Linked DNA regions of Homo sapiens: region 1 is linked to region 2. The links come from fine-mapping of genetic effects on gene expression. A gene starts in region 2. The other region holds a variant in brackets. All regions are shown on one strand. Distances are between the middles of the regions.

The links. PIP is the estimated chance that this variant, and not a neighbour inherited with it, causes the effect.
Region 1: its variant is fine-mapped to the expression of CLDN15 in whole blood (TOPMed, PIP above 0.99).

The regions. Positions count from the first base shown.
Region 1 is chr7:101,208,987-101,211,780 of GRCh38, reverse strand. It overlaps PLOD3 (procollagen-lysine,2-oxoglutarate 5-dioxygenase 3), which reads left to right. Exons shown (of 19, transcript NM_001084.5): 12 at 65-190; 13 at 1,108-1,249; 14 at 1,337-1,450; 15 at 1,620-1,688. Among named protein-coding and RNA genes, the nearest start is that of PLOD3, 7.2 kb to the left of the region's middle. The variant C/T (reference allele first, on the strand shown) is at 1,533.
Region 2 is chr7:101,236,848-101,239,604 of GRCh38, reverse strand. It overlaps CLDN15 (claudin 15), which reads left to right and starts at 1,803. Exons shown (of 5, transcript NM_014343.3): 1 at 1,803-2,240. The coding sequence starts at 2,024. It overlaps FIS1 (fission, mitochondrial 1), which reads left to right. Exons shown (of 5, transcript NM_016068.3): 5 at 1-133.

The DNA.
Region 1 (2,794 bases), 28 kb after region 2:
CCTGGGCACCGGGCTCCCCAGGCCTGCTCCCGTCTGCCCAGCCCTCACCCCCACCTGTCCGCAGGAAGGTGATCGCCCCCATGCTGTCCCGCCACGGCAAGCTGTGGTCCAACTTCTGGGGCGCCCTGAGCCCCGATGAGTACTACGCCCGCTCCGAGGACTACGTGGAGCTGGTGCAGCGGAAGCGAGTGTGAGTCCCGCCAGCCTGCAGCCCCCCGCCTCCTCCGACCCGGGGCCCAGGTAGACCCAAGCCCCCTACTCTCAGGGGTTTGGAGTGGTCACCAGTCAGAGGTGCCATGAGGCTGGCTGCAGTGGCTCACACTTTTGATGCCACCACTTTGGGAGGCTGAGGTAGGAGGACTGCTTGAGCCTGGGAGTTTAAGATCAGCCTGAGCAACGTAGCAAGAGCCTATCTCTACAAAAAACTTAAAATATTAGCTGGGCACGGTGGTGCGTGCCTGTGGTCCCAGCTACTACGGAGGCTGAGGTGGGAGAATCACTTGAACTTGGGAGGTTGAGGCTGCAGTGAGCCATGTTTCCACCACTGCACTCCAGCCTGGAAACAGAGGGAGACCCTTTCTCAAGAAAATAAAAAACAAGGGCCGGCCGCGGTGGCTGACGCCTGTAATCCCAGCACTTTGGAAGGCAGAGGCAGGTGGATTACTCGAGGTCAGGAGTTCGAGACCAGCCTGGCCAACATGGTGAAACCCCATCTCTACCAAAAATACAAAAATCAGCCGGGCATGGTGGCTGGCACCTCTAATCCCAGCTATTTGGGAGGCTAAGGTGGGAGAATTGCTTGAACCTGGGAGGTGGAGGTTGCAGTGAGCCAAGATCACACCACTGCATTCCAGCCTGGGTGACAGAGCAAGACTCCGTCTCAAAAACCAAAAACAAGAAACAAAAAAGAAGTGCCACAGCTTGGGGTAGGAACTGACCGCATTTTGGGAGGTGGGGTGGTTGGGACCAGCAGTGCTTGACAAGGGACATGCAGGGGCCTTATGTTCAGGGACTGGGATACCCTGAGGGAAGAAGGACTTCCCGGGATGAGCTGGGCAGAATTTGGGGGGCTGTCCTCCCAGCTGACCGCGGTGTCGGTGCCTCCAGGGGTGTGTGGAATGTACCATACATCTCCCAGGCCTATGTGATCCGGGGTGATACCCTGCGGATGGAGCTGCCCCAGAGGGATGTGTTCTCGGGCAGTGACACAGACCCGGACATGGCCTTCTGTAAGAGCTTTCGAGACAAGGTGAGCGCGGGTGCACGGTCTGGCCTGGGGGCAGTCCCCCAGACTCCAGGCATCGCCTGCATCACGGACACCCCCACCCCACTACAGGGCATCTTCCTCCATCTGAGCAATCAGCATGAATTTGGCCGGCTCCTGGCCACTTCCAGATACGACACGGAGCACCTGCACCCCGACCTCTGGCAGATCTTCGACAACCCCGTCGTGAGTGGGGACCCCACGCCCAGAGCACACAGGTTCCCCGCCTTGTGCTAAGGAAGACACCAAACGTGATGGCTGCTGCCAG[C/T]GCAGGACACTGAGTGGGAGGGGGCGGTCCCCTGGGGGCTGGGAGCGAGGGGGGCACAGATCTGATGTGCCCCCCACCCTCTCACAGGACTGGAAGGAGCAGTACATCCACGAGAACTACAGCCGGGCCCTGGAAGGGGAAGGAATCGTGGAGCAGGTGAGCCCACGCAGCCTCCCCACCCACCCCCTGCCCTCATGGCCATCGCCTCTTGGGGGCCCCCGCCTGGATTCAAAGTTTTCACACTGAGTTCCCCAGAGATCTGAGGGTTTTCTGTTCAGACAAGATGAAGGCAGAGGCCGAACAGAAAGGACTCTTGCCCCCAAAGCCAGCATTGATCAGACAGCCTCTTCTCCTGTATATTGGGTATACTGGTGTTATGCTTGAAATCACATCTTAAAAGAAGAATGGGGCTGGGCTCAGTGGCTCATGCCTGTAATCCCAGCACTTTGGGAGGCCAAGGTGGGTGGATCGGTTGAGGCCAGAAGTCCAAGACCAGCCTGGGCAACATAGCGAGAATCTGTCTCTACAACAACAACAAAAAAATTAAATAAGAAATGAGGCCAGGAGTGGTGCTCATGCTTGTAATCCCAGTACATTGAGAGGCCGAGGCAGGCAGATCACCTGAGGTCAGGAGTTCGAGACCAGCCTGGCCAACATGGCAAATCCTGTCTCTACCAAAAAAAAAAAAAAAAAAAACACAAAAATTAGTCAGGTGTGATGGCGTGCACCTGTAGTCCCAGCTACTCGGGAGGCTGAGGTGGGAGAATCGCTTGAACCTGGGAGGCAGAGGTTGCAGTGAGCCAAGATCACGCCACTGCACTCCACCTTGGGTGACACAGCGAGACCCTGTCTCAAAAAAAAAAGAAAAGAAAAAATTAGCTTGGCATGGTGGCATGTGCCTGTAGTTCCAGCTACTTGGGAGTCTGAGGCGGGAGGATCGCTTGAGCCCAGAAGGTCGAGGCTGTAGTGAGCTATGATTGTGCCACTGCACTCCAGCCTGGTTGACAGAGCAATACCCTATCTCAAAAAAAAAAAAAAGAGGTATGCACTGTTACGGAAGTTTGGAAACCACTGTCCCAGCACGAGGGGCTCCAGGACCCTCTGCCACCTCTCCTGTGCCAGAAACCGGTCCTCAGCCTTGCCACTCCCTCAGCCCCTACCTGGCGGGTCCCCGGCTGCTCTCACAAAGCCTTCCCTGCTCCTCCCTGCCCCTTCCCATTCTGCCTGCTGCCTGTCCCCTTCCCCGTTCTGCGGCGTCAGCT
Region 2 (2,757 bases):
GTCTGCGTTGAGGGGAGGGGTGGGTTCTGAACGCTGGGCACAGGGGGCGGAGACGTCACTCCTGGTCCTCTCCTGCCCCTGCCCTCCAGGTTGGCACGGGGTTCTTTGTCCACCCCGCAGCCCAGAGCCCACACCCTTCCTTCCTCCCTTTCCTGAAGCCATGTCCTTGAGAGTGCCGGGCAGCTCGGAGACATGGGGCTTTTCCATGGTCCCAGAGTCCTGGGAGAAGGCAGTGACCTGAGCATGGGCGGGCAGAACTTCGGGGCCAGGCCGGGCTTCAGGCCTGCATTCTCCTCTGACCCACTCAGCTACTTCTGTGGAGTTTTCCACAGCAGGCCCCCTTGGCTTCCTCCTCCCCACCCTCCCCTCCCTTTGTCTTCCTGTGGCCTCCCCTTCCTCCTACCTCCTCCTCTGGGGGAGGGGGAGCCCAGTAGGGGAAGGAATCCTGCATCTGGCATGGAGTAGGCGGGGGTCCCGGGAGAGGTCAGAGCCCAGGGAGCCCCAGCTCTCGCCTGTGGGCTGGAAGGTCAGGACTCAGCCCCACCTAGCCAGCTTCGCCCCCTCGTGCCAGGCTCGGCATGGGCCTGTTTTGCTTCACCGCATACCTCTCGTTCCACAGCCCAGGCCAGCACAGGAGTAGGGAGGAGACACCTGAGGGGAGGCCGGAGAAGCCCAGCAGGGCCGTGGGGCCAGGGAGGTGCGCAGCCAGCGCTGATGGCCCCCAGGGACAGAGCCCTAGGGAACCGGAGCAGGAGATGAGAGTGTCTGCTCTGGGACAGGTGCTCTGCACTGGCTCGGGATGGGGACCAGAGGCTGCTAATCCATCATCATTAACGAATAGAGTGGGTGACAGTCCCTGATAACTGGGAACAGGTTGCAGAGCTTAGCCACAGGATCACGCTCCAGGCTGTTGGCCAGCAGGACCAGGCTCGATGCTGAGTCAAAGATCAACTTAGGAGGAAATTTGAGTTTTGGGTGAGAGCGACTCCCTGGTGGCCTCAGCCCTGTGACACTCACATCCAGGACAGTTCCCGGTGCCAAGCGCTGGTTATGTGTGGGGGGCTTGACTCCCTGGTCCCAACGAGGTCTCAGTGTGTTGCCCAGGCTGGTCTTGAACTCCTGAGTTCAAGCAATCGTCTCAGCCCAGCCTCCCAAAGTGGTAGGATTACAGGCGAGAGCCACTGCGCCCGGCCCCTGGTCCCAGTTCTCACCACAGCCCCTGCAGTAAGCAGTCGGGTATGTCACTGACAGAGCAGAAGCTCAGGGGACTAAAACTCCCCGCCTGAGTTCCCTGGTGAATGGATGGTGGGGCCGAGTTCCATTCCAGGCTGGATGGAGCCCAGAGCTGTGGGTCTCCTACCCTCCCATCCCCTCATTCCAGCTTGATCTTCCTTAAGAGACTCATACGCCCCAACCCCTTGGTCTGAGTATCTTAGATTGTTCTCGTGGTTCCTCCGTCCTTCACCACTGAAGGCTGCTGTTCATTCTCTCTCCGTCTCTGTCCCTTATTGCTCTCACGTCTGTCTCTGTCATCTTTTCACTCCTTGTCCCTCTTACTCCGTTCTTTGGCCCCCAATGAAAGCTGAGTCAGAGACAGACGCTTCCCCTCAGTTCCCAGTGCCTCCCTTGGGGGCCCCTCCTTGGCTGTATCCGTCAGTGGCTCCAGGGTAAGTCTGCCCCCCCCACCCTCGTGGGGCGGGGAGCCCGGGGCAGCCCAGAGGCTGGGGGGAGGGGGTGGACTTTTGGCCCGTTTCGGTTATTCCCTCCATCTCGTCAACAGCTGCCGCGCGCAGGCTTAGCTCATTCCTCTGACCTGCCAGGAAGCAGAGAGACCCACAGAGCAGGAGGGAGGCAGAAAGTGGAGACGGACCTGAGCCCGAGGAAGAGGCAGGCAGAGGCTGAGGCTGATTCCACCCCAGCCTGCCTGGACAACCCTCCTTAGCCGCAGCCCCTTCCAGTTCCCTAGGGGTTCTGCCCCTCCCCCTCTCTGGGGCACCAGCCCCCCAGGGTCCTGCATCCCACCATGTCGATGGCTGTGGAAACCTTTGGCTTCTTCATGGCAACTGTGGGGCTGCTGATGCTGGGGGTGACTCTGCCAAACAGCTACTGGCGAGTGTCCACTGTGCACGGGAACGTCATCACCACCAACACCATCTTCGAGAACCTCTGGTTTAGCTGTGCCACCGACTCCCTGGGCGTCTACAACTGCTGGGAGTTCCCGTCCATGCTGGCCCTCTCTGGTATGGGGTGGGGAGCGCTCCAGGGAGAGAGGGCGGCGGGGAAGCTGCAGAGACCCCAGGGGAGGGCGGGTACTTCCGTGAGGATGCAGGGAGCCCTGAATTAAGCTCTGCGGGTCTGAGTTCCCGCAGCCAGGAGTGCTGGGGGCGGCCCATGCCTAGAACTGGAGTGAAGACCTTGCCACACGTGGCCCCCTGCGCTAGTGTGGCGCTTTTAGCTGTTACAGGTGCAGGCACCAGAATCAGACCCCCTTTCCCAGCCCTGTGCTGTGGGCAAATGATGAAACCAGCTTCATCTCCCACCTGTAGGGTTAGGGTGAGAGTCCCAGTTCACAGGTGACTGAGAAAGTGCAGAATGTTAGCGTGATGTTAACACACATAGGCACTCAGTACGGTTGAGCATGTTTTGGGGGTGGGATTGCTGGGGTGGGCAGGGGGAGGAGGCCCCATCTTGGATTCTTAGAGGTTGATCAACTTCCAGGCTCCACAGACTCCCCAGCCTCACTGTCGGGGGGCACTG